Homo sapiens: one gene and its partners. The protein of the gene in region 3 purifies or fractionates together with the protein of the main gene of each other region. This does not show direct contact. Each region holds a gene or a part of one and is shown on either strand. Other genes may lie near its edges. The genes, in order: TTC4, EDRF1 and CHORDC1.

Region 1 (7,000 bases), on a different chromosome or scaffold from region 3:
ACCCTGGTGTACACCACAATCAGGATAAAGTTTACGCTCCTTAGCAGGGCATTCAGGCCTTCGTGTATGGCCCTAACTTAGCTTTCTAGCCTCATTTCCTACCACATCCAACCACTCTCTTTACACTAATACATTGGGCTCTTTTAGCTTAAGTGCAAAAGCATCTGCTTTTCTCTGCTTTGCTTTGCTCAAAGCTTAAGGAAAAGTAGTCCAAGAGTCAATTTGCAAATCTGCTGAGGGCTTTCCCTTATAGTCCAGGAACACCTCACAGCTTCTCTGAGACAACTGCCAAATCCAACTTGCTGCCACTGCTAATGACAAAGATGCCCTCCTATAGCAGGACTGCCCTGTGCAGTTTACAACAGCACTTCAACTCCTATCCTGTCATTGGCTCTCAAATACTTGAGAAATGTGTAGGCATGTATTACTCCCATTCCAGAGATGAGGCGGCAGTCCCAGAGAGGCAGCGTGTGCTTGGAGTCACACAGCCAGTAAATGATGATGGGTCTGACTTCAAGAGCCAATGCTTTCTTCATATGACAGTATCAGGAGCCGGGTCACTGGCATGCACTTGATATTCCAGCTACCTGGGAGGGTGAGGCAGGAGGACTGCTTGAACCCAGTTCAAGACCAGCCTGGAGAAGATACCCTGTCTCTATTATAAAAATAATTTAAAAAAAAATTTTAGGGGCTGGGTGTGGTGGCTCACATCTGTAATCTCAGCACTTTCGGAGGCTGAGGTGGGTGGATTGCTTGAGCCCAGGAGTTCAAGACCAGCCTGGCCAACATGGTAAAACCCCATCTCTATTTAAAAAAAAAAAAATTCAAAATAAGAAAAAGCAAACAAAAGAAAGAGCATCAGGAGACATAGGTATAGGTACGATTAGGAAAAGGAAGGCTGGCCGGGTGCAGTGGCTCGCCTGTAATCCCAGCACTTTGGAAGACCGAGGTGAGTGGATCACCTGAGGTCAGGAGTTTGAGACCAGCCTGGACAACATGGTGAAACCCCGTCTCTACTAAAAATACAAAAATTAGCCAGGCATGGTGGCAGGCGCCTGTAATCCCAGCTACTCAGGAAGCTGAGGCAGGAGAATCACTTCAACCTGGGGGGTGAGGTAGAGGTTGCAGTGAGCCAAGATCGCACCACTGCACTCCAGCCTGGGTGACAGAGCGAGATGTCGTCTCAAAAAAAAAAAAAAGGCCATCCTAGCAGCCTTCATGTACAAAAAGCCAGGCAGCTTTTCCCTTCAAAGACCAGTCCTATTTATCTCCCCTGGTCTGGAGTGTTATGGCTGTGGTGCAGTGGGCTATCATCACACTGGAGCCTGTTTGACCAATGGCTGAGTTTTATGGGCCCGGCCAGTCTCCATGGCTGCTGTCTCACACAGCTCTGTGCTCAGGGCAGAAGGGAGGGGAGTATGAGGCAATCAGTCAGCAGCGGAATGAGAACCTGGCTCTACTCCTCGGATGGTGCCTGAGTGATATGGTTTGGCTCTGTATCCCCAACCAAATCTCATCTTGTAGCTCCCATGATTCCCATGTGTTGTGGGAGGGACCCGGTGGGAGATGACTGAATCATGGGGGTATGTCTTGCCTGTGCTGTTCTCGTGATAGCGACTAAGTCTCACGAGATCTGATGCTTTGAAAAATGGGAGTTTTTGACCGGGAGTGGTGGCTCATGCCTGTAATCCCAGCACTTTGGGAGGCCAAGGCAGGTGGATTACCTGAGGTCAGGAGTTCAAGACCAGCCTGGCCAACATGGTGAAACCCCGTCTCTACTAAAAATACAAAAGTTAGCCGGGCGTGGTGGCAGGTGCCTATAATCCCAACTACTCAGGAGGCTGAGGCAGGAGAATTGCTTGAACCTGGGAGGTGGAGGTTGCAGTGAGCCGAGATCACACCATTGCACTCCAGCCTGGGCGACAAGAGCAAAACTCCATCTCAAAAAAAAAGGGAGTTTTCCTGCACAAGCTCTCTCTTTTTGCCTTCCGCCATCCACGTAAGAGGTGACTTGCTCCTCCTTGCCTTCTGCCATGATTGTGAGGCATCCCCAGCCACGTGGAACTGTGAGTTCTCCACTAAACCTCTTTTCTTTATAAACTGACCAGTCTCAGGTATGTCTTTATCAGCAGTGTGAAAATGGACTAATACACTGAGCATCTTCCCCAATCTACTCAGCGCCATGAGATGACTCACCTCTGGTGCTGTAGAACCTGTAGCAAGGTGCTCTTGGCAGGCACCCGGTATAGTTCTGCCCTGTCCTCATCCTCAAAGTAGACCTGCAAGATTAACAGAAGGGCAAGAGTCAGAGATAAAGGCTTCGGCAGCCTTAGTTGAGGCTAAGCCCAGGGAAAATTAAAAAGATGGCAACGGTTAGTAGTTGAATGCCTCCTTTATATGGTTGTGTAGCTGGGTGCTTTGCATTTAGTACCCCCCCGCCATGCCACTGTAAAAGAGGCTATTATCAGTTCCATCTTCCAAAGACAGAATCAAGGCTCAGAGAAGAACAACAACTTGCCAACATTACCCTGCTGGTAAACAGAAGAATCAAGACTCAAGGCCAGGCCTATGTAGCCCTCCTTTCCCTAACAAATCAGACTAAAGCCATCAGGTATGTGGAGGAGAAAGCTATGGTGGCTCAGAGAAGGAAAGAGCCTGAAGAAGGAGAGAAGGATGTCTGTGCAGGGTGTCAAAGCCCAAGCAGGGTGAGGAAGACGCCTGCACAGGAAGCTCCCGGGGGTGTCAGAGCAGGACCAGTGAAGAAGAGCATCCATGCTGGGGGCCAGCAGGCCTGAGCAGGGGAAGAAGTGCTCCCTTGTAAGATGGCTGTCCAAGGTGGGGTGTCAGAGGCCATGTGGGGTGAAAAGGGTATCCATGCATGGGGACAAGTAATATGGAGTTTACAGGCCCAACTAGGGTGAGGAGGGTGACCACTCATGGCAGGGGGTGGCCTGCTGTAGGGTGTCAGAGCCCAAGCAGGATGAGGAGGATGTCCATGTAGGGTCGTTGAGCAGTGTGGGATGTCAGAGTCTGTGCGGGGTGAGAAAGACGCCCACGCTGGGGCAGCAGCGTAACATGTGGAGTCAAGAGTCCAAGTAGGGTGAGGAAGGCTCCACATAGGAGAGGGGCCAGTGGTGATGACAGGAGGGGAACTGATCAAACAAATAACTATATTAAGAATAATAAAGTCAGGCCAGGCATGGTGGCTTATGCCTGTAATCTGAACACTTGGGAGGCTGAGGCAGGTGGATCACTTGAGTCCAGGAATTCAAGACCAGCCTGGGCAACATGGTGAAACCTCATCTCTACTAAAAATACAAAAATTAGTTGGGCACGGTGGCAAACGCCTGTGGTCCCAGCTACTTGGGAGACTGAGGTGGGAGGATTGTTTGAGCCCAGGAGGTTGATCTTGGCAGTGAGCCAAGATCTCCCTACCGCACTCCAGCCTGGGCAACACAGCTAGACTCTGTCTCAAAAAAACAAAAACAAAAAAAGAACAAGAAGAAAGTCATTGTTACAAATATAGAAAGGGAGAAAAAATCCTGTGGATGTTGAATTAAGAGTTGGAGATACCAATGAGACTTCATGGTCTCTCTCTCTCTCTCTCCTCTCTCCTCTCTTCTCTCTCCTCTCCTCTTCTCTCTCTCTCTCTCTCTCTCTCTCTCTCTCTCTCTCTCTCTCTCTCCTTTCTTTCTTTCTCTCTCTTTCTCCCCCAAGCTGTGGCACTGAGAAGGCATTGAGGCAGTAAGCTTGCCTCTCTACCCCCATTGTATTAATCGATACACTTATACACTTATTGCACAGAGATCTCGGCTTCTAAATACCATTCTTCACTAGAAAGAACCAGGGCTTCTTGGGAAAAAATAGCTAATTCCAGAGCTGGGGCAAGGAAAGCGCAATCTGAACCTAGAACATCCTATGTAAGAAAGCAACCACTTAAAAAATAGACACAAGTCAAAAGGACACAGAAACAAATTTGAAGAGATTCCCACTGGCCAAATCTGGGATATTCTGAGCATAAAAGAAACAATCATAGTAACAGATTAAAACTCATTAAATGAAACAGGAAACTATAAATCCACCAATATAAATAAATATGTTGAATATCTGACGAGCAATGGGATATTTACACCATTTCAAAGCATCTCCCTATAAAACACTTATTAATCATAAAGAAAAAGTAACTGTACAGTGGAGAAGGCTGGCAGACCCCACCTCAATCAGGTGATCAGAGTGAACATCATGAGTAATGGGACAAATGGAGATTATGTACCATCTGATAGGTGCAATGAGAATACAGCATCACTTCTGTAATATTCCAGCCAAATATGCATAATCCAGGCCGGGCATGGTGGCTCACACCTGTAATCCTAGCACTCTGGGAGGCCAAATCGGGCAGATCATTTGAGGTCAGGAGTTTGAGACCAGCCTGGCCAACACGGCAAAACCCCATCTCTATTAAAAATACAAAAAATTAGCTGGGCGTGGTATCTGAGTAGCTGTAATCCCAGCTACTCAGGAGGCTGAGGCAGGAGAATCGCTTGGACCTTGGAGGCAGAGGCTGCAGTGAGCCGAGATCACACCATTGCACTTCAGCCTGGGCAACAAGAGCAAAACTCCATCTCAAAACAAACAAACAAGTATGTATAATCCAAATCTAGTCAGAAGGAAACATGAGACAAACCCATACTGACAGACATTCTACAAAATAAGTGGTCTGTAATCTTCAAAGTGTCCTGCAGTTGAGTCACAGGATCACAAAAATATGAATAAAAATTTTTTAAGTAAAAAAAAAAAGTGGAGGAAAGACTGAGGAGCTCTTCCATACTGAAGGAGACTAAGGGGACATGATCACTAAATACAGTATGTGATTCTGAACAAAACCCTTTTGCTATAAAGAATTTGTGAAACCTGAATGGAGTCTGAGGGTTAGATGGTAACAGTGAATTAATGTAAATTTCCTGCTTTGATAGCTATATGGGTATTATAAAGAAAAATGTCCTTTTGTGTAGGAAATACACAGTAAAGTATTCAGGGGTAATGGGACATCAGCTGGCATCCTACTCTCAAATGTTAGAAAAAGGTAATTCTTTATACTGGATATTGTGATTTTTTATTTAAAAAATCCCAACAATGGAATGTTATTCAGCCTTAAAAAGGAAAGAAATTCTGGCTGGGCACGGTAGCTCACACCTGTAATCCCAGCACTTCTGGAGGCCAAGGAGGGCGGATCACTTGAGGCCAGGAGTTCAAGACCAGCCTGGCCAACATAGCAAAACCCCATCTCTACTAAAAATACAAACAAAATTAGCCAGGCTTGGTGGCACATGCCTGTAATCCCAGCTACCTGGGAACCGGAGGCATGAAAATCACTTGAACCAAGAGGCAAGGTTGCAACGATCTGAGATTGCACCACAGCACTCCAGCCTAGGTGACAGAGCGAGATTCTGTCTCAAAAAATAAAAATAAATAAAAAGGAAAACAATTCTGGTTGGGCATGGTGGCTCACACCTATAATCCCAGCACTTTGAAAGGCGGAGGTGAGTGGATCACTTGAGGTCAGGAGTTCGAGACCAGCCTGGCCAACATGGTGAAACCCCATCTCTACTAAAAATACAAAACTTAGCTGGGTGTGGTGGCACGCGTCTATAATCCCAGCTACTCAGGAGGCTGAGGCAGGAGAATCGCTTGAACCTGGGAGGCAGAGGTTGCAGTGAGCCAAGATCGCACCACTGCACTCCAGCCTGGGTGAAACAGCGAGACTCCGTCTCAAAAATTTAAAAAAAAAAGGAAATTCTGACACATGATACAATATGTAATGAACCTTGAAGACATTATGCTAAGTGAAATAAGCCAGACATAAAAGGACAAATACTGTATGATTCCACTTATATGAAGTACTTAGAGTTTCAATTTGGGAAGATGAAAAAGTTTTGGAGATGGCTGGTGGTGATAGTTGCACAACAATGTGAATGTACTTAATGCCACTGACCTATATACCTAAAAATGGTTAAAATGGTAAATATTATGTCATGTATATTTTACTATAATTTTCAAAAAAATAAAGCAGACTGCTTCCCCCGCCGCAAAAAAAAAAAAAAAAAAAAAAAAAATTAATTCCATAGAGGAACGAAATAAAACTTCTCTTACCTCCAAATTATCAGGGCAATATTTTTGCTCTAGGTCCCAAGAGGGTGTTTCACCAAACATCACCATTAGATGATCAATAAACCTAAGGATAAAACATGTACTTTCTGGGTATCAATAACTCATGATCTATTTTCCCACATCGGTCCCCAGACACTAATTCAAAGTTATCTAGAATGTATAAAACATGAAATGCAGGCTTAACCCATTTGACAGCAGTACCCCAAATGTGTATATGTATCACTTGTCCTATTATGACATAATTTTATTTTATTTTATTTTATTTTTTTTTTTTGAGACAGGGTCTCGCTCTGTCACCCTGGCTAGAGTACAGTGGCATGATAACAGCTCACTGTAGCCTCGACTTCCGGGCTTAAGCAATTCCTCTACCTTAGCCTCCTGCATAGCTGAGACTACAGGCACATGCCACCATGCCTGGCTAATTTTTTTCTTTTTTTTGTAGAGATGGGGGTCTCCCTATATTGCCCAGGCTGGTCTCAAACTCCTGGGCTCAAATTATCCTCCTGCCTCAGCCTCCCAAAGTTATTGGGATTACAGGTGTGAGCCCTGCACCTGACTGACAGGATTTTCTTTTTTTCTTTTCTTTTCTTTTTTTTTTTGAGACAAAGTCTTGCTCTGTCACCAAGGCTGGAGTGTGGAGTACAGTGGAACAATCTCTGCTCACTGCAACCTTCACCTTCTGGGTTCAAGTGATTCTCGTGCCCCAGGCTCCCAGACAGCTGGGACTACAGGCATGCACCACCATGCCCGGCTAATTTTTTATATTTTTATTAGGCACGGGATTTTGCCATGTTTGCCAGGCTGGTCTTGAACTCCTGGCCTCTAGTGATCC
Region 2 (10,547 bases), on a different chromosome or scaffold from region 3:
TGTGGTGGCGAGCCAGTCACCTGCAGTCAACCACGGCTCATTGCTCTCACCATGCCTGTTACATGAAGGTAAACGTGTCCATATGAGTTCATATGTTGAAGCCCTAACCCCTAGTTCCTTAGAATGTGACTGTATTTAGGACAGGTCCTTTAAAGACGTAATTAAGATTAAATGAGATTGTAAGGGTGGGATCCTAATCCAGTATGACTGGTGTCCTTTTAAAGAGGGAGGGACTCCAGGGCTATGCACAGAGAGAAGGCCCTGTGTGGACACGGTGACAAGGCGGTTATCTGCAAGCCAAGGTAGAAACATGAGAGGAATCCAATGCTGCTGCCACCTTGATCTTGAACTTCCAGTCTCCAGATCTATGACACAATAAATTTCTCATTATGTCACCTAGTCTATGATATTTCATTACAGCAGCCCCAGCTCACTAACATAGCTTGATGAAGTCTCTCACCATCCTGCTCTGCCTCACCCAGGATGGGAACCATCCCTTTGTCCAGCACATTCATGCTGTATGCACGGCCCACCCATTAGTCACTTAGTAGCTGTCTGGGTTATCAGATGACTGTTACAATATTGCTGTGCTTTTGTACAAGTAACCCTTATTTTGACTTAATGTCCCAAAGCACAAGAGTAACGATGCTGCCATACTGTTGTAAATGCTGTTAATCTCTTACTGTGCCTAATTTGTAAATTAAACTTCATCGCAGGTATGTATGTATAGGAAAAAGCACTGAAAAACTCTCCAGTTTCAGGCATCCACTGGGGATCTTGGAACGCATCCTCCAAGGATAAGTGGGGTCTACTGTACAACACTTAAGTATAACCCTCTTCACTATTAACCAAATGATATTAAAATAAGCAAAGAAAAACATCTGAGCAAAGTGCCATTTTGTGAAGATCCAAAAGCGTGGTCCCCATGGAGTCTGAAGAGATTACAACCTGTGTTGTATCCAATTTCCCTAGCTTCCTGACTACCACTTTCCAGGCTCCCTCACTGACTGCCCCCTCCAGATGCACCGTAAATGCACAGGTTCTCCCACTAGCAATGAACTCTTTGAGGGCAACATTTGTATCCCTAAGTGCCAAGCATTATTCACAGATCAACAGGCACACAGGCTGGGTGCAGTGGCTCATGCCTGTAATCCCAGAACTTTGGGAAGCCAAAGCGTGAGGACTGCCTGAGGCCAGGAGTCCGAGACCAGCCTGGGCAACCCAGCAAGACTTCATCTCTAAAAAAATTTTTAAAAATTACTTGGGAGGCCGAGGTGAGAGGATTGCTTGAGCCCAGGAGTTCGAGGCTGTGGCAAGCTATGATTATGCCACTGCATTCTAGCCTGCGCGACAGAGTAAAACCCTGTCTCAAAAAAAAAAAAAAAAAGAAACAACCAAAACCAAAACCAAAGGCCCACAGATGTTCAGCTTACCTGCTCACCTCAGTTCTACCTCAGCCCCTTTCTGTTCTGTCCCTGTGTCCAGGCTTTACATTCTTATCTATTCTCACGGCTTCAACTATTACCTTTATGTGAATGGTTCTCAGTCTGTCTCACTAGCCCTACAGCTCTTAGCACACTTCAAATTGACTACAAATTATACCTTTCACATACATGTTCCATAGTGAACTCAAATTCAACATGGGCCCAAATGGTTTACCATCTCACATCTTACTTACACCATCCCACATCTTACTACGCCATCCCACATCTTACTTACCCACTATCCCACATCTTCCTCACACAGGCCTCTTGCTCCCTCTAAACGTACACTTGCACCCTTTGAGATCCCTGGCTTCTTCCTCACACCGCCTCCTTGGTCTGGAGTGCCCTCCTTTCCTCACATTTGCCGGCTGATGCTCTACACATCCTGCATCACCCTGCTCAACAACACTTTCCCAAAAGCCTTCTAACTTATAACCTCCATAAATGTCTTATTTCCCCAGTCTCCCATTATACTTCGTCGGTACTCATCCACAGCATTTTGAGGCTTTGTGTTCCTATCTAGCTTCCCAACATGAAGAGAGAACCATATTTTAGCCAGTTACATATCCAACATAGAGCCTGGCACATGGCTGGATGTCCCATTTGCTTCTGAATTGATCAGATGGAGTGAGTACAAAAGTAAGAATGAAGAACATTGAAATAATTCATTCCAAGGGAAAATCATGTGTTCCTAATTCTATTTCTTAAGAATAATAAGAGGTTCTCTAATAGAGCACCTCTTTATGATATAAAATCAAGTGCCACAGTTCTTTGCTTGACTCATACAAAATTAGCATAATTTTCTGAGAGAACAAGCAATAGAGAGGAATCTAAAGAGATACTCACCTAGTCTCTCACTCTGTAATGCAGCAGCCTGATTCATGTAAAACACACCAATTTCATTTCTAATGTTACCCATTCTCTTTAATACTTGTACATAGTGTTCTGGATTTTGGCTTTTCAAGTCACTAAACTGCAAGATTTCATTAGCAGCCTCATAACATTTACAACTAACAGAGAGTTGACTTTCTAAGTCTGTAGACAAATCAGTTGCCCATGCAAATCCTGAAAAGAAAAAAGGGATACATCAATGCGAATCATGTGATTCCTTCTTCCTCAGTATCCAAATGAACCTGAGATTCTAAATTCTAAGTAATAAAAAATGCAATATAGTGTAAGTATACCAAGATTCAATCAATACAACAATATTTAAGTTTCATAATAAAGATCTATTTATTTATAAAATTATATTTCTTGGGATATTAATGTTGGATAAAAATATTTTCCTGCCTATGAATATCAAACAATTTCTGTGACCCAGGTTTTCCCAGGTACACTTGTTTATTAGAATGGACCTAAAGTTGTCCACTAATACAAAGTAAAGTTGCTATTTTTAACTAATGGAAATAGTTCTTGAAATAATGTCCCAATATTAACTTTAAGTCACTGAAGAGGCTGCTACAGAAGCCCTCGAAGATTAAAAATGCCATCTAGTGGGGACTAGAGTAAAAAGAATATTTAACTGAAATTGCTATGATGGGAGTAGTAAAAATACACCAAGGACTTTCCTACTACATTAAAACATGATTATTTGAGAAAGACGGAGAGAGGGGAAGAAAGGGCAAAACTATTACAAAATAACACATTTTTCCCTCTCCCCCAGTATACTCCTCTAGCTATGAATTGTCTAAAACTCTGGGAGGCAAACATCAAGTAATATTCAGTATAACAATTTAAGAGCATAATAAAACAACCCCATGAGACATTACAGAAGCACCTTCAGAAGACTCATCTTTTACTTCATTCACTGTGTTAATGGCAGCGTGGTTACACACTGTGCTGAGGTAAGAGGGAGGGATATCGCTGCTGCGGATCAGATTATTCTACTTCCCAGTTTTAAAGCCTGACAATTCCAAACAGAGTGACATATTAAGCAAGACAGGTGGCTATGAACTAACTTTAAAAACAATGATCACTTTATTTCAGCCCCAAGGAATCATTCAGAAGGTTAATTAACCTCCTTCACCAACTGTTATACCTTTCAAAAGGAAACCTATGGCTTTGTTAGCTGACTACAAGTGTTACCTAGAAGAACCTCATGAAAAGAAGAGTGTAAAAAGCTGACACAAGGCTGGGTGCAGTGGCTCGTGCCTGTAATCCCAGCACTTTGGGAGGCCAAGGTGGGAGGATCGCTTGAGTTGAGGAGTTTGAGACCAGTCTGGGGCAACGTGGTGAAACCCTGTCTCTAACAAAAATACAAAAATTAGCTAGGTGTGGTGGCGCATGTACTAGTCCCAGCTACTTGGGAGACTGAGATGGGAGGATCACTTGAACCCAGGAGGTGGAGGTTGCAGTGAGCCAAGACTGCCCCACTGCACTCCAGCCTGTGTGGCAGAGCGAGACTGTGTCTCAAAAAAATAAATAAATAAAATAAAATAAAAAGTTGACACAACTGTCTTCATATCTTACTTTATATTTAGTTCTAGTTATATAAACAGTAATTATAAAATACTTAAAAACCATTTTATACAAATACACAAGATCATGCTTAATCTTAAAATTAGGAAATGAATAAAACAGCAGGCCAGGCGTGGTGGCTCACACCTGTAATCCCAGCACCTTGGGAGGCCAAGGTGGGCTAGCCGGGCATGGTGGCGCATGCCTGTAATTCCAGCTACTTGGGAGGCTGAGGCAGGAGAATTGCTTGAACCCGGGAGGCGGAGGTTTCAGTGAGCCAAGATTGCACCATTGCACTCCAGCTTGGGCAACAAGAGCGAAACTCCGTCTCAAAAAATAAATAAATAAATACAGAGCAAATATCAAAACTCTAATATTTCTACCCCTTTTCTGAATACTCAAATAAGCATGAGCTAGACTGCACAGTCCCACTGTGAACCACGTGGTCCAAGCCTGTGGCACACCTTGGCAACTGGACTCTCTGTGAAGGCTATGCAGGATCTCCTGGTCTTCTTTTGTTTGGTAATGAAACTCTTCAAGGTGTGCTGCTCTATTATTTGCATTCTGGGCCAGCATTAGTTGGATATCACCACAAAGTGTCAAATATTGAGAGAGAAACAACAGCACTTCGGAAAGCATATTGGTGCAGAGGCAGCAATAAGTATCTGTTTAGAAAGGGAGGGAAGAAGAAAAAACACAAATGCAGAAAAAAATTAATGATCATAGGAAATATGAAGAAACTGTGTTACCAGCTGAACGCTTTGTAGCACTGTATCTATTCTGTTTATTTTAGGTCCAACAATACATATTACGGCTTCATGTAGTTCAAAGCAAAGAGATGTTAAACCACTGAGCAGAAACTAAAATAGAAGGTAACACACACAGGATTGGAAACAGTCATTTTAAAATAAAGATTTACTAGAAAAATAGGAGTAAACTTCCACTGTGATTCAGATGCCTTCTCTGTTCTCTCTTCCCAGTGCCTATTAAACATATTCATTTATAGTGGCTTACCATGGCTTTGCAAAGCTAATTTAATGTATCGTAATGCTCTTCCGTATTTCTGAAGACTCATGGCAGCATCGGACAAAACATAATAGGCCTTTGATGACTTGAGAATCAGCTGAAGTTTCATTTTATGTTGCCAAGAGCCAGGGATCATTCCAGATTGACTGGAATAATTGCCCTTCTGAAGGGAGCCCACTGTGACATGGAGAGAAAAAAAAAGACAGCACATTTCATTTGACTGTAAGTCTCATGCACAAAAAATATTTTCTGTTTCTTGATGGAAACACTCTAGACTTAGGTGACAAGACTGGTAAATACTATGCTTTACTGCTTAAATACACTGGAGTGAAATGGCCGTGTTAAAAGACTCTCACTTGGGAGTTCTAAGGCCTTCTGCTTCCCTGACATCGGCAACTCTGTCATTCTCTTCCAGTGTCACTGACATAGCTAACCTCATGAGTGACACCTGTCTCCTTTTTCCAGTCTATGTGTCAACCTGTCAAAGTTTACCTTCCTAAAGCACAGCTTAGATCAGCGTGAAAGCCTGTCCTCAAACATGAAAACGGCTTCTCCCCACTTAGCTAGTTGCATGTTTCTCAGTCTCACTTCCTACTTGTCCATCCTACTACCCATCAGCCAATGTTAAGTTACTGCTTGTCACCTATAAACATGCCTGTTTTTCCTATCTCCCATCTTAGTTTACTGTTTCCTCTACAAGGAATACTCTTTATTTAAAGTCCAGCCCATCGCTACCTTCTTTACTCAACAAATGATCATTTTTCTGCCAAGTACTGTGCCAGGCACTGGAAACTGTGACATGAAGTTATATGGCCTCTATCCTTGATAACATAAACCACAACAAAATATGTTAAGTGTAATTAACAGACAAAGAACAAAATACTGTGGAAAATTTTGCTCTGCAAATAACAAAAACACCCACCCCTTCCCCCAGCCTGAAGGTTTCTCATTTTTTAATCAGCTAGAACACAAGTCTTTCAAGGCAATGAAAGGTACTTAGTCTTCATTATGGTTTAATGTGTGTATGGATTTTTTTCCTCTGCTGATATAAGCATCATCTGTGAGTAAGAGGCATTGTGAGAAACTAAAATTAAGATGAAGTTCTTGTTCACAACCGTGTGTGTGCATGTGTGTGTAAAACCATTTAATGCTGGAACTCTGACATAAGGCAGGCTCACAGGACAAAGTGGTAAGAGAATCAAGTAATTCTGATGGAGAACAGAGGGAAACATGGAGATTCTGAGCTTGAGCAGGATTTTCAACAGGGGAGATGGAGAAGGAGACAGAAAAGGCATTTCAGAAAAAAAGAATGGCAAAAGTCCTGGTGTGATCTCCTTACTGCCTGTAGGCCGAAGCCTGGCATACCAGCAGCACTATATAAATGCTGGGGAAATAAATCTATTCCTCTCCTACCTCCACCATGTTTGTTCAGGAAAAGAAGAAGGGTCCAGAAAGCGCTTCCACTATGATTCAGATGTACTTCAAACATACAGGCTTTCTACACTTTTTTTTTTTTTAAACAATTGAAACTGATTTAAAAGGGGGAAAGAAATAAGGTTGGAAAAAGAAATACAACTTAGGTTAAAATAAGAAATTCACAACTTCTGCTTCGAAGTCCATATATTCTTCATGATGTTATATTCCTGAAGAACTAGATAATTTAAAAGTGACATTTGTAGCTTATTCAAGTACTGTGCAGTAACAACAGCCTACACTTCTATAGTGCTTATTATGTACACTGTTCTGAGCACTTTACATATATTAATCATTTAATCATTTAACAACCCTTTAAAGAAACCATTATTATCGTCTCCATTTTGAAAGAGATAAAAAGTGACTCAAAGAAGTGGAGCAACTTGCCCTCGCAAAGCCAAGATATGAAGTTAGGCAGTCTGGCTAAGTCTGTGGCTCCTACACGATCCAGCGAGAACTCCACCAGGCTGAAGCATTAGTTCCCCACTGTGGGTAACAGGAAGATGCAGGCTCCTTATGCTCTTATTAGAAATGTCCATGAAACATCAAAATTATCCTTTTTATATTTCAAATGAAAGAATACTACCCCTAATTCCAGTTCACAGGATATCTTTTTCTCAATGCCTTTCAATTAATGCCTTAATTGACATAAGTCTGCTGTTGATAAAGAACCAGTGTATTATTCTATTGAAGGCCTTATTTGCACATCAATTCAACTTACTTTTGTCCAAAAACAAGGCCATCTGCTTCTCTAGCCCCTCGGGACCCCCTCTTGAGGATTCATCTTCATATTTTAACGGGATTGGAGTGCTGGGGTCAGCTGCTGGAAGGTCGCTTTCTTTTTTGATGCTGCTATCGACAGATTTTAAACCCTGCAAAAAAAGGAAAAGCATTCACTATCTATCTAACTTCAGGTCAACTGAAAACTAAATATAAGACAGTATCTGGACTACTGAATACGTTTAGGAAAATTTCCATCTCACAAACAGACTTTCAAAAACTATGTTTGATCTGAAAGATTTGGGAAAAACAAATCTGATTTTCACTTTATGCTTAAGGAAAAAAAAATCGCAGCAGAACACAATTCAGAATAACATTTAGATACCAACAAACAAGTGTAATTTGCATAATCAAGTACAAACTTTACGAAAAAAGTGAAGACTAAACTTAAACTTACCTCTAGAACATAGCTAAGCACAAGTCTACAGCGCTCTTCTGTGTCATGGCAAACTGGAAATGCACAACTGGGCTTGAGGAACAAACATAAAATTATTAATACACTACCAATGTATTAAGGTCAACATATTGTTTTTGTTGAAGATTAAATTACTGTAAGCATTATCAACAAAAATCTTGCTTAAAAAGATCCTACAACATATATGTTGCTTTAAGTACTTACAATTTTAAATACAATTCTATTATGACAAAAAAGCAAGAACTAGAGTAGTAATGTTTTAGACAAATATAGACATCATCTAATAGGTCAGCTCCACTCATAATTAGCACCGATACTGGACAAAACACAATTAACAATTAGCGTCAATTTAGAAATAACAAGTATCACCAATATTCTCGTTGTTTAATTTATTTGCTTAATTAAGGAGCAAAAGCAGCTAGCAACCTCCAACTATGAAGGATATTATGTGTAGGGGCTTCTGTGAAGCATTTCATTTCGCTGAATCCCGTGGGGTTGGAATTACTGTTCTCATTGCACAGAAGAGAAGCATGCACAGACAGTTTAGCAATTTGTCTGAGGACACGGTGAGTGAGTGGGGAGCTGGGACCCTGGAGCTCATGCTGACTGTCCATACCACAAAGTCATTCAATGAGGATAAGGAAAGGCTAACTAAAGACATGTTTATATGAATACTAAGACTGCATTTTTTGAGTGCTTCAGATACGGAACAGAAAGTGCTATCTGTGAAAAATAGTGACACTAACTCATTACATCTTTAATTATTACCTAATTGCCCCGTAAGTCCATGGCCTAGTGTTACAATGCAGTTTTCCAGATACATGTAACTTTTGCAATCAATGATTATAACCAGAACATTTTTTCACTCCACTGTGGAAGTTCAAGCTGAAAGTGAACTAAAATTTAGATGGACAGTTAATGACTTTTTCCTGCAGTCATTTAGTCAAATATTTACTGAGCACCCATAATGTGTTCTAGACATGGGAGATAGAGGGTCTGTACCTGCAGGGAGCTTACGTTCTAGTGAAGCAAGACAAACATTAAGAACTTCAGGAACAGATAGGCTCCTTGAAGGACAAAAAAGTAGAGCATGCTTTGGCCAGAGTGGTCAGGGAACATCTCCCTGAAGAGGCAACATTTCAGTCAAGACTTAAGCCTTAAAAAAGGCAGCCATGAACAGACCTAGGGTAGGTACATTCCAAGCAGAAGCAACAGCAAATACAAAGACCCTCCAATGAGCATAATCTTGATGCTTTTGAGAGAAAAAAAACCCAGCATGGCCACGGCAAACCAATGGAGCAAGTGAAGGTCAGAAAGATGGTCAATGTTTTAAGGTGACAGACATAGCCCCTCAAAAACTTGCTTAGAGTTTCCATCTGAAAGTTACACTCAGTGCTTAAATTAAGAGATTATCTGTAAATACGACTGTATTTCAGTTCAGGGAACAGCCAGAACTCTTAAGGCTGGCCTGGATCTAATCATAGGGAGACGGTATGTTGAAAGGTATATACTGCCTGGAGATACACTGATGGTAGAGTCAGTGCAATCCACACAGGGAGAAATCTGTCTGGCCCTCTCCAGGGCAGAGACATGTCCAATACAACAGACATGACCACAAGAGTCACGAAAAAAGTACTGTCCTATATAGCACAGGGATAATGTACCAGAGCTCACCATATACAGTTCCAAGAGCCACCCCCTTCTCTACTCTATGTTCACCAAGCAATCTATATATGTCATTTCCCAGCAACCCCAACACCGGATAGAAGTGCCCTAGTAATGAGACATGACTATGACTACACACTGGTCACTGGAAAGGAAAATCCTTCACATAAGAATAGACAGACACCTGGTTTACACACCTGTCCACTATAGGCTTGCATAATGTGGGTCAGTTACCCTCGAACAATTATAAAACCAACTTTAAGAATTCAGAAAACTAATGATTACTAGATGCTAGACCATGAAAGGTTTATTGAAGTAATGGTATCTTTTGAAAGGCTAACTATATTCGATTAACAATTATGTTTCCTTGATAAAAATTTAATATAAATTCTAAAGGCTTACTCTGATTTGATGAATAGATTTGTATTTTTCTGGTACTGATAGTTCTCCAACAGACTTGATTATAGCTACTGCTTTGCTATCATCTGATGGATCAGAGCTGGTGCTATAGGATCCATTTTCATCACTGTCGGGCATCTCTTCCTCCTCTTCACTATAACTTTCATCAGAATTCTCATTTAAAGGAGATTCTGAATTTTCTTCCTTTTTAGGTTCATCCAATTGAAAAAGTTCTGAAAGCATGTAATTGGCGGAAGCAATAATCTTATGAAAAAGAGAGAAATATGTGTAAATTACTGTCATCAAAAAATACATGAATTTTACTACCATACTAACGAATTTTAGGAGGAGGTCTGCACACAGGCTGTTTCCACCATATAGACTGTAACACACACAGAAATGTTCCCAGTTCAAAGCTACTGATACTCTGGGTATGCTCTGCAAAATCTTTATAGGCTGATGCATTTCCTATTTCCCGAAATTACTCCACCCTGAGCCCTCCCTCTTAAAAGGTGTCAACTGAATTTCACTGGAGACAAACAAAAGCTTTTGAGTACAGAGTGTCATAACTAAAATATTAACAAAAATTTAATACCACCCTATGCCAAGTGAGAAACCAGAATTTTTCTTTACAAACTATAAATTAATTCAAGTTTCTCTATAATAGGTAACTAATATTTATCATATAATCTATGGTTCTAGAAAAAAAAAACCATTACATTAAAAAGGGAAAAGTCCATTCTGATATCTCTTAAAATTAGCATTTATATATGACCATTTAACCCATTCTACTATTTATCAGTTCTTAATCACAGACAATAGTCTTTAACACCATTTCTAACATCCAA
Region 3 (10,547 bases):
CAGGTATAAAGTCAGAGAATAGTGAATATATTTTGTATAATGTACAAGAAAACATTTTAAAATATCAAAGAAATTTAGCTGATTCTTAAAAAAATAATGAACCATAAAAGAAAAAAAATTTAATATAGGTTCTCGTTTTGAATAAAGACATATGGAATTAACCTATTAGGTTCTGAAGTATTTGTAGTTTATCATATCTGACATTTAGAAGAAAAAGTTTCTTAACTACAATGTGCGACTTTTCCCTATTTATATGCAGTAAACTACTATTCTCTCTTTTGGATAACTGCTTAACTGTACCAGAAAATAATTAACAATAAAACAAAATAAAATCTTACCTTTCTTATTTTCTTCATTCCCTGATGACAGTTTAAGTTTATCAAGTGCTTGTTTTAGGGAGGCAGATATTTTTAATTCCAAATTTGTCATTGGTTCATCTGGGCTGGAGAATTTTGAAACCTTATTACCATTATTAATATACCAAAATATTTCTTTGTACTCCAAATTAATAACCTTAAAAGCTTTCTGAGAAGCCAAATGCTTTGTGTATCAAATGATTCCCATTAAAAGGTTAAAAGGTATTTTATAAATAATTGTTACAATGTATCTACATTCTGTCTTAACAGAAAAGCTCCTTATATTAGAATAGTAAGTCTCAAATAATCACGCTATTGTCAGCATATTTAAGTATTAATCAGTTGCACTAACGAGAAAGGAATAAAGACTAGGAATCCAAGGTTTTCAAGATGAGTAATGCTGAGGAAGGGACCATAATGTACTTTTACATCCCATGCCCAAGCTCAATGCTGAGCACATAATAAACATGAAATATAAGTAAGTTCTAAGTGAATCCATACTCACTTCTACCAGTGGAGATAATTTATGTGGACACTGGCATATGGATCTGTAAATTCAGATACGATCGTATTGCAAGGCAATTTCAGTAGGGTTTAAAAAACAACATCTTCTAACATTTCATAATGGCTAAGTGTTGTATACATAATTTAAGTCCACTCAATAAATAAGTATTAAACATATTAATAAACACAGCAATAAAAATAAAAATCGTAGGCTATTCATTCTATATCCTCGATGAAAAAACTGACAAAAGAGGCATTTTAAAAGTACATAGGCAAGGCATGGTCGCTTATGCCCATAATCCCAACACTTTGGGAGGCTGAGGCAAGAGGACTGCTTGAAGCCTGGGCAACAAAGTGGAACCCTGTCTCCGCAAAATAATAAAAAATATTAGTCGGTCACTGATATGGTTTCCCTGTGTCACCAACCAAATCTCATCTTGAATTCTAGCTCCCCTAATCTCCACATGGTGTGTGACAGACCTAGTGGGAGGTAACTGGATCATGGGGATGCCTTTTTCCCATGCTGTTCTCATGATAGTGAATAAGTCTCAGAAGTTCTGATGGTTTTTTTCTTGCCTGCCACCATGTAAAACATTCCTTTATTACTCGCTCTACCTTCTGCCATGATTGTGAGGCCTCCCCAGCCATATGGAACTGTGAGTTCATTAAACCTCTTTTTCTTTATAAATCACTTAGTCTCGGGTGTTTCTTCGTAACTGTGAAAATGGACTAATACAGTCATAGTAGCATACACCTATAGTTCCGGGGAGGGTTAGGGAGGAGGATGGCTTGAGCCCAGGAGTTAAAGGCTGCAGTGAGCTATAATGCCACTGCATTACAGCCTGGGTAAGAGAGGGACTTTTCTTCTTAAAAAAAAGAAAAGTATGTAAAAACTGATATCCTCATAATTGTTATAATACCACCAAATGAATTTAGGATAAAATATTTAGTTTTTCTCATCTCACTGCCTTTGTCCTTTTTTTTCAAAAAGTCAATCTCAAGATCCTCCTGCCTCAGCCTGAGTAGCTGCAACTACATGAGCACACCACCAAACCCAGCTAATTTATTTTTTTTGGAGAGACAGGATCTCTTTCAGATTGGTTCTCAAACTCCTAGGCTCAAAGGATCCTCCCTCCTAGGCTTCTCAAAGTGCTGGATTATGGGCTTGAGCCACAGTGCCTGGCCTCTCACTGCCCTTTAAGTAAAATAACAGCCCATCATTTAAAGAAAAAATTAACTCATACTATTATAGTACAGACTGTATTATATTACTAAAGAGATTAAGAATGAGCCATGACTGAAGTTTTGTCTTTTCCCAATTATTTTTCTAACTGCTAAACTGGCCAAAGCATTCAATGGTCTCCTCTAACTATGAAGATGGAGAGAGAATAAAATCATCCTGAGTAGTTTCCTTAGCAATAATCTGTACTCAGAGTGCTAATGAACAAATAAACATCTAAAGTCTCTTAGGGTTCTTATCTTGGTTCTATATTATTCAATACTCTATAAATTTATTTAAGTAGGATCAAAGGAGAATAAAGGGAAAATCATGAGTTCATAGCATGAATAAAAATTACAATAAGTGCCTACTTGCAGCCAAAAAAAAAAAAAAAAATCACCTTTTTTTAAGTCCTGTAGTTTGCTTCTAAAACAATTTAGTACTCAAGTGTAGCACGAAGAAGACCTGGTTCAACAAAGGTACTCAATATACATGTGTGGGAATACAGAGTCTGGTTATCAGAAGGCAAGTATGAAGAATCTGTACAACTCTATTGCACAATGAGCAAACGCTTTTTTAAGACTACTTTCACAAATATGTCATCTAAATCAAATGCATTAAAAATTGACCAGTAGTAATGAGATTAACGGTAGTTTTCAGGCATCTGAAAGTAAAGATGGATGATTAGGCCTCTGCATTATTTTCTACTTCAAACTCATGCCATGAAAAGGAAAACTGCTTCAAAGAATTTTACCATGCCACAGTGAAAAAGATGCACTCTAAGGCACAAGAAAAATGTGACTTCCCTACCCTGATGATACATGTCCCTGTAATTATGACAGTACAATATGCAAATCTGTTATGTAGTTATATTGTGTACATGCTCTCAAGTTGAAGAGAAATAAAAATTTAAGGCAGATTTAAGGGAGAAACCAAATGGTTCAAAGCTTGGTGGCCTACATAGTAGCTACAAATGGTATCATGCTAAATCATAAAGGAAAGTACCATGCACAAGTGCTACTATTCAAGTGTGACAAAAATATGTAACTGTATAAAGTATACCTTGGTCTTTTTATTGCTTCTACTGGCTTAGGGGCTTGAATGATGTGTTCCTGAAATTTGGGTTTTAATTCACATAGCTCCTTCTTCTCAGTAGTCTTGACTTCAGGTTTGACTGGCTCAGGTGGCTTCTCACTATTATGTCTACCTTTTGTACAGCCCTGTTAGTGAAAGATAATTCATTAAGAGCTATCTATTTTACATTTCATGATAGAAATATTATCTTTTCAGTTCTTTATTGATAGTGATTCTATTTCATGTTTTCTCCAGTTTCAATACATTGATTTTAAGAAATTAAAAACAGAACTCCAAATTTGCCATATTTGCTGAATCTCTGAATGACGGCTTTTTTAAAAAGTCTTTGAATTACACTTCATAAACATCTACTTATTCTATTAAAAATATGGCATAAACCTCTTGTTTACAGAAGAATTCTGGAGAATCTCACAAAGAACTGTAAAAAATAGTTATACAGAAAAATCTGTTACTCGAAAGGCCTCAATTTGAGACCTAGTTCTCAACATACTTATTAGTTATATGACCTTAAGCAAGATAATCTTTTTAAACCTCCATCTCCTCATTTGTAAAATGGAGGTAATGTCAGGTAAGATATTTTCTGAGAGAGTTAAATAATAAAATGCCTGGCACATTTGGCAGGTGATAACATTCAACAAACGTTAGCTACTTTTCTACTACATTCTACTGAATTATACATACTCTTTAACACCTCTGAAATGATACAATCAATAGCATTATCAGTTTGTTAGTAGCTTTAGTTTTCTTAGTGGTATATAAAGTGGTTTTATATAAAAGTGGTATGTAAAATATTTCAACAGCATCTTAGATAAAACTTTATCGTTCCTAACTGAAAAGGCTTTAAATTGTTGCTTACCACTTTCTCCTTGATGTTCTTTCAACATAACAGAAAGAACAAACCTAAAATGATAAGCAGGTAACTGATACCTTAAAACGTTAATTTCCAAAACAGATTCTTTATTTTACAAGCTGTGGAAGGGAGATGAGCTGCTTTTTGAAAGGTGTTATCTGCAAGTTGATGAAGACCAATCAATCTATATCAGAAATCAGACTCCTCAAATCTGAAGCTTTCTATAACATGTATTTTTAGGAAGATAATCTAGAAAAAATAATTAGTACTTACTACAATGCTTAAGAAATCAGAAAAATCAGTTGTTCTTCTCTTACAGCAAGACCAACCCTATGAAAAACAAGAGAAGGAAACTAAAAACTCTATTTGCATGAGAAACACGACCCACTAAAACACTCTACTTGCACTTATCTACTTGAATCCTGCAGTAACTTGCGTATAGAGTGCAAAATTTCAGTGTTGCATATAATTCACCTAATCAAGTAAAATGAATATTAATCTTTGATTTTTAAAAAGCCAATTAACCAATGTTAAAGTGATTTGTGCTATGCCCTATCATCAAGGGAAGCACCTTTATAAAACAAAAACTGTTTCTCTTTTCAACAATCGTGTCTGCTTTTTTTTTAGAAGAAAAACATGTTATAATTCCTAAAACTATCATATTTAAAGAATATTCAAAATAAGTATAGGTATTTTACTTTTAAAATCTATTAAGTTAAAGATAGTAACTATCTTTAGTTAATTTTAATTTCACAATAAGCATTCTATTTTCAGAACAACAAAGATTAATTAACACAGCAGCTAAAGCACTATTAAGCCTTTGAAGGTGATCTTTTCAGTGAGAAGCATAAAGACAGAGAAACTATTAGTATTTGTGATTTTTGAACAAACTATCAAGTAGTTTACCAAAAAATGGCTTTAATAATTATCTCTAAATTCCAATGTTTATAGAGCATAGGGAAACAAAAATGCAAAATCTCAAAACTTGGAACTTCAGATTAAGATTTGGGACTAAATTCAGATTAAGATGCAACTTTGCACACATCCGCCTGGACCTCGCTGATTTTCAAAAGACTGCATAAAAATATGGTAGTGATTTTTCTCATTATATGCACCTGTAGGTTCTTTTTCTTTAAAGGTAATTTCAAATATCCTATAATTCAAATTTTCCTTTAATTTGAAATTTAATTATCTTTTACTCCGAATTGAGATGTAGATCAATTACTACAACCTTAAATATAGGGTTTAAATAGCATCAATAATATAGTCAACAGAAAAGTTATTCTATAAGAGAAAAAGTTTTACTGTCTTAATCATGTACTAAATTATGTCAGATACTGTGATACACACATGTAAAATACAATACAGGCCAGCTGTTCCCAAATGCCAATCTGGATTCTATGCTAGTCTTCAGTACAATGAGAAAAGGAAAGATAAATTTAAGTTATGTGAATATAAGGTTGCTAGTTGTCTTTTTTCAGCAAGATTGTCCTTTTCTCTGAATATGCCCCTTCTAATATTAAAATAGTATTTCTTTTGTCAATGCAATGTTTAACTTCTTACTTGGTCAACTAGTATCCCTGTATTGATGTATACGCATTTTGTCTGAAATCTTCTGGACTGTGAAATCCAATAATCTTGGAAAGTCTAGGACTTTAAGAAATGGTTATAAAATAGAGACCACAATAAACACTACAACTGCAAAAGAGAGAGAAGCAAAAATACTTCAAAGTGAATTCATTAAGACTTGGAGTGATTAACAATGCGGTAAGAGAAAAAACGGGCAATGGACCAAATGATCAGAAAGTCAGTAGTATCATTACTAGGAGCAGTAAAGTTGAGAGGCAGACTACTTTTGGAATAAACGGTACACACTAGAAACTGGTTTGATGTTGCCAATGAGACACATAAATAGAAATATGTTGTAAGAGCCATCGGCGTAGAGGTGACATTTGAGAAAACCAATGAATGAACTGAATGAGAGAAAACAGCCAAAGGTTACCTTTAAGAGCTAAGAGGAAAACAGCATAGGGAAAAAAAGAAAAAGACACAGTAAAACAAAAATATCAGAAGAAATGGCAGTCTAGGAAAAATAAAATTCCACAAAAAGAAAAATAAACATTTCCACAGCACCACAGTTTCCACCACAACAAAGATTTGTAAAAACTAAAAAAATGTATGGAGGAATAAGGTCTCAACTTGCCCTACTGAATGTCTTCTCTGTTTTCCTCACTCAGAACTAACCAGACTAATACATCTTTTGTTAGATTTGGTGGTGTTAACAGTGAAGTGCCAAAACAGTCTAACTACTCTTTGGAAGGTATAATTAGACATTTAAAGGGCACCAACAATATTTAAACATGTTAAGACTGCTTATGTTCCTGAGAACCAAAGAAGTAGAACCTAAAACCATGGCAGCCCTACCACAGCATCATCTTTTGAGATATACAAAGGAAACTCTTTAAATGTATCATACTATCATGAATTTTAAAAAGATGACCAGCAAAAACCTAGTCAAACAACATTCCACCAATTCTCCAGAACATCCAAGAAGTATAGCTGGAAAACTCACAGGTCTGTCCCGAGATTGGCACTAAATGTTTATAAGAATCTTTTCTAAAATTCAGAGCTGTTATTAGCCAGTAGTGACAGACTGAGATTCAATACAACCACTCTATTTTCCCTCAAAATTAGAAAAGTGAAGAAATGGGTGTAGAAAATGAAAATTAAGACCAGGCATGGTAATCCCAGCACTTTGGGAGGCTGAGGCAGGTGGATCATCTGAGGTCAGGAGTTCGAGACCAGCCTGACCAATATGATGAAACCCTGTCTCCACTAAAAATACAAAAATTAGCTGGGCATGGTGGCAGGTGCCTGTAATCCCGGCTCCTCAGGAGGCTGAGGCAGAATCGCTTGAACCCAGGAGGCGGACGTTGCAGTGAGCTGAGATCGCACCACTGCACTCCACCTGGGCAACACAGTGAAACTCCATCTCAAAAAAAAAAAAAAAAACCCAGAATTAAAATACAATTTTATAACTGGAAAAGACCTTAAGATCATCATCTACTGTCTTTTCTTTGTCTTTAGTGGAGTATACGCTTAAAGCACCTCCCCCGCAAAGGTCATTAAGAAGAAAGTCACTAGCTGAGAAAAAAAGATGAGAAAATAAAGATTTAGTATTACATCTCTCAATTTACTACACAGATATGAAAAAAATGAAAATATAGTTCCTACCTTTAATGCATCGTGAAAGACCGGAACACCTGGGTGGTATGTGCAAGCATCTGGAGAAAACAGAGAAAAAAAAAAAAGTACCACTCTTTATAATGAAGAAAAATATATACATGATCATCTCCTTAAGGTGTTAACCTTTAATCCTTTTTCCAAACGCAAGTACCTTAAAAAGGTACAAATGATTGAGTTTGACGTGCAGCACAAAGTGTACTATATTAAAATAGTATTAAAAATTCTAATTCAAGCATATGATGACTAAGGACAAAAATACAGAATTGTTTATGTATAACAATTATATTTTATATTCCCCTAATCTTGGTAGTAAAATTTGTTTAGTACCAAAACTTCAAACCCCCAAATTTTGACCATCATTTTTCAAACCTGCTTTTACAAATGTACTATCAAACTTGAAGTATTCTTATGTGCATTCATCCATAAAGGTTTCACAAGAGATTCCCTTAAAGACATTTTGTAATAACAGGCTCAACATTTTAAATACTGTAAAGATTTTTTGCAGTATCTAATTGGTAATTTAACTTTCCTAGACACAGTCATTCCTAGGTACAAACCTCACTAAAAAGAAGACTAGGGTGCCTCTGCCTGGCCCCTGCCCTGTTTGGGAAGTGAGGAGCTCCTCTGCCCTGCCCCCGCCCAGTCTGGGAACTGAGGAGTGCCTCTGCCTGGCGGCAGCCCTGTCTGGAAAGTGAGGAGCACCTCTGCCTGGCCACTGTGCAACCTTCCAAGTGTGAAGTGACAGCCTTGTGTGTGATCTTTCTGCCTTCCCCAAGTGTGCATTTTCAACATTAAAGTTTACTTTTTAATTAAAAAAAAAAAAAAAAATAGAAGTCTAGGTGGGCCTGGTGGCTCATGCCTGTAATCCCAGCACTTTGGGAGGCTGAGGTAGGCAGATCACCTGAGGTCAGGAGTACGAGACCAGCCTAACCAACATGGTGAAACCCCGTGTCTACTAAAAATACAAAAATTAGCCGGGCGTGGTAGTGCATGCCTGTAGTCTCAGCTACTCAGGATCTTGACAGGAGAATCGCTTGAACTTGGGAAGCAGAGTTTGCAGTGAGTCAAGATCATGCCACCGCACTACAGCCTAGGTGACAGAGCAAGACTCCATCTTAAAAAAAACAAACAAAAAAAACTCTCAAGTTCTACAGCCTATTTTCTAGATTCTCACTGGGTGTTATTCTATACTTCCCTCCCCACTACACCATCAATCTTTACTTCTCTTATGTAAATGGGTTTATTACAATTTGTGTTGGGAACAGGCCCCCAAATCTGGCCATAAACTGGCCCCAAAACTGGCCATCAACAAAATCTCTGCAGCACTGTGACATGCTCGTGACGGCTTTGATGCCCAGGCTAGAAGGTTGTGAGTCTACCTGAATGAGGGCAAGGAACAACTGTCCCACCCAGGGCGGAAAAACACTTAAGGCATTCTTAAACCACAAACAATAGCATGAGCCATATGTGCCTTAAGGACATGTTCATGCTGCAGATAACTAGCCAGAGCCCATCCCTTTATTTCCCGTAAGGAATACTTTTAGTAAATCTCCATTGGAGGCTCTCAGCTCTAAGGCTGTGAGACCCCTGATTTCCCACTCCTTACTATATATTTCTGTGTGTGTGTCTTTAATTCCTCTAGCACCACCGGGTTAGGGTCTCCACGACCAAGCTGCTCTCAGCAATTTGCAAGATGGAGTACTATATTTTTAAAAATCAGGTAACAGTCAGCTTCATCCCTCTGCAATCTGCTTAAAAGACTATCTTTCAACCTTTCAAGTCTATTTAGCTTTCAATGCTCTACAACAACCTTGTCCAACATGCCGCCCCAGACAACTCTGAATGTAGCCCAACACAAATTTCGTAAACTGTCTTAAAACATTATGAATTTTGTTTTTGTTTTCTTTTAAGCTCATCAGCTATCATTAGTGTTAGTGTATTTCATATGTGACCCAATTATTCTTCTTCCAATGTGGCCCAGATAATTCCTCTTCTTCCAATGTCGCACAGGGAAGCCAAAAGATTGAACACCCTTGCTCTATCACCTGATTCCTGGTGTTGCCTCAAAATTTACTACTGGTGCTCACAGAAATCTCCCTACCCCGTTACTAGCCAGTATTGCTTCCTTAGTAACCATGTGCTGCATAGATACTAGCTAATGTAGAAAGTGTTAGGTATCTTCCTGATACAGTAAGTAAATCCGTGGGATCAGAAAGATGTTATTAATTAAGGGTAGTTGTGGAATTAAGGGCTGAAAAAGGAGGTTGGAAGTAGAAATGGGTATGCAGAAGGACATGAAGTTGAGAGGGGAATGGAAGTAGAGAATAGATCCAGTATTTTCAAACACCAAATTTAAAGTAGTCAGAAACATAAACGCAATGTATAACAGAGTCAGAGGCATAAAATGTCACAATAAGTCAATTTTGGCAGCATGGCAGCAGGAATGAGTCAGATCTGAACCATACAACTAACATGAACACAATTAGAAAGCCACTGCTTTCAAAAACAAGAAGTAACAAGCAAATGGACATTCTTCATTCTTTCTTTAATATCCATCCTTTCTTTATCAGTTTTAAGAGTTTTGGCAAAATTAATATTTTATGGGTGAGAAGCTACAAGACAGTAGCAGTGGTTAAGTGTCCAGGGCTTCTAACATTGGGTCTGACCCTGGCTAAATTTCTCACTGAGCTACTCGCTAGTAGTTCCTTCAGTTTTCCTCGTATACGTCGATTAAAAAAAATACCGTTTGTGAAGCTGTGTTTATTCTAGAATAAGTGTTTAACATATGTAAGTTACCAACTGTGTCTCCCTTAAACACCCTTTAACTTCAGTTACAAGTTAAAACGTTCTATCAGCTTAAAAGGGAGTCTAATTTCTGTCTCTAGGGGGAAAAAAAAATCATGAGACTATAAGTCAACGAGCACGGTAATTATGCCACAGCACCGAGAAAAAAAGCATTTAGTGTAGATTAAGAAATATTTAAAGATGACAGATCCAACATCTGGCTTACGCAAAATGGAACTTGCTTGTGTATTTACCTCTTTTAACTTATTTCTGTCAACTGTACAAGGTCAAACCTCTTCCTAAAAAACCTCCTAACCAACCTTTCTATTTAGTTCTTGTCTCCTACTCCGTATCTCCATTTTCTTCTCCTTCCATTCACTCAATCAGTTTACTTGAAAAATGTATTCTAAGTCTCTAAAAAAACCGTCATTTCGCTAAAGTAAATATACTTATTGGAATTTCTCTGCTGTAACTAGTACTGCTGACCACCCAA

The links.
Region 1: the proteins of CHORDC1 (region 3) and TTC4 purify together in Homo sapiens (affinity purification with mass spectrometry; 2 studies listed by BioGRID and IntAct, with this or other methods). This does not show direct contact.
Region 2: the proteins of CHORDC1 (region 3) and EDRF1 purify together in Homo sapiens (affinity purification with mass spectrometry; 3 studies listed by BioGRID and IntAct, with this or other methods). This does not show direct contact.

The regions. Positions count from the first base shown.
Region 1 is NC_000001.11:54,732,861-54,739,860, reverse strand, and holds part of TTC4 (tetratricopeptide repeat protein 4), read right to left. Parts: intron 6,233-7,000; coding exon 6,151-6,232; intron 2,280-6,150; coding exon 2,197-2,279; intron 1-2,196.
Region 2 is NC_000010.11:125,735,060-125,745,606, reverse strand, and holds part of EDRF1 (erythroid differentiation-related factor 1), read right to left. Parts: intron 9,964-10,547; coding exon 9,703-9,963; intron 7,690-9,702; coding exon 7,618-7,689; intron 7,313-7,617; coding exon 7,162-7,312; intron 5,145-7,161; coding exon 4,956-5,144; intron 4,607-4,955; coding exon 4,406-4,606; intron 3,388-4,405; coding exon of another isoform or gene 3,368-3,387; exon of another isoform or gene 2,693-3,367; intron 2,550-2,692; coding exon 2,331-2,549; intron 881-2,330; exon of another isoform or gene 756-880; intron 69-755; exon of another isoform or gene 1-68. UniProt on the Homo sapiens protein: Transcription factor involved in erythroid differentiation. Involved in transcriptional activation of the globin gene.
Region 3 is NC_000011.10:90,210,877-90,221,423, forward strand, and holds part of CHORDC1 (cysteine and histidine-rich domain-containing protein 1), read right to left. Parts: intron 7,309-10,547; coding exon 7,259-7,308; intron 4,355-7,258; coding exon 4,298-4,354; intron 3,300-4,297; coding exon 3,142-3,299; intron 2,545-3,141; exon of another isoform or gene 2,480-2,544; intron 443-2,479; coding exon 339-442; intron 1-338. UniProt on the Homo sapiens protein: Regulates centrosome duplication, probably by inhibiting the kinase activity of ROCK2. Proposed to act as co-chaperone for HSP90. May play a role in the regulation of NOD1 via a HSP90 chaperone complex. In vitro, has intrinsic chaperone activity.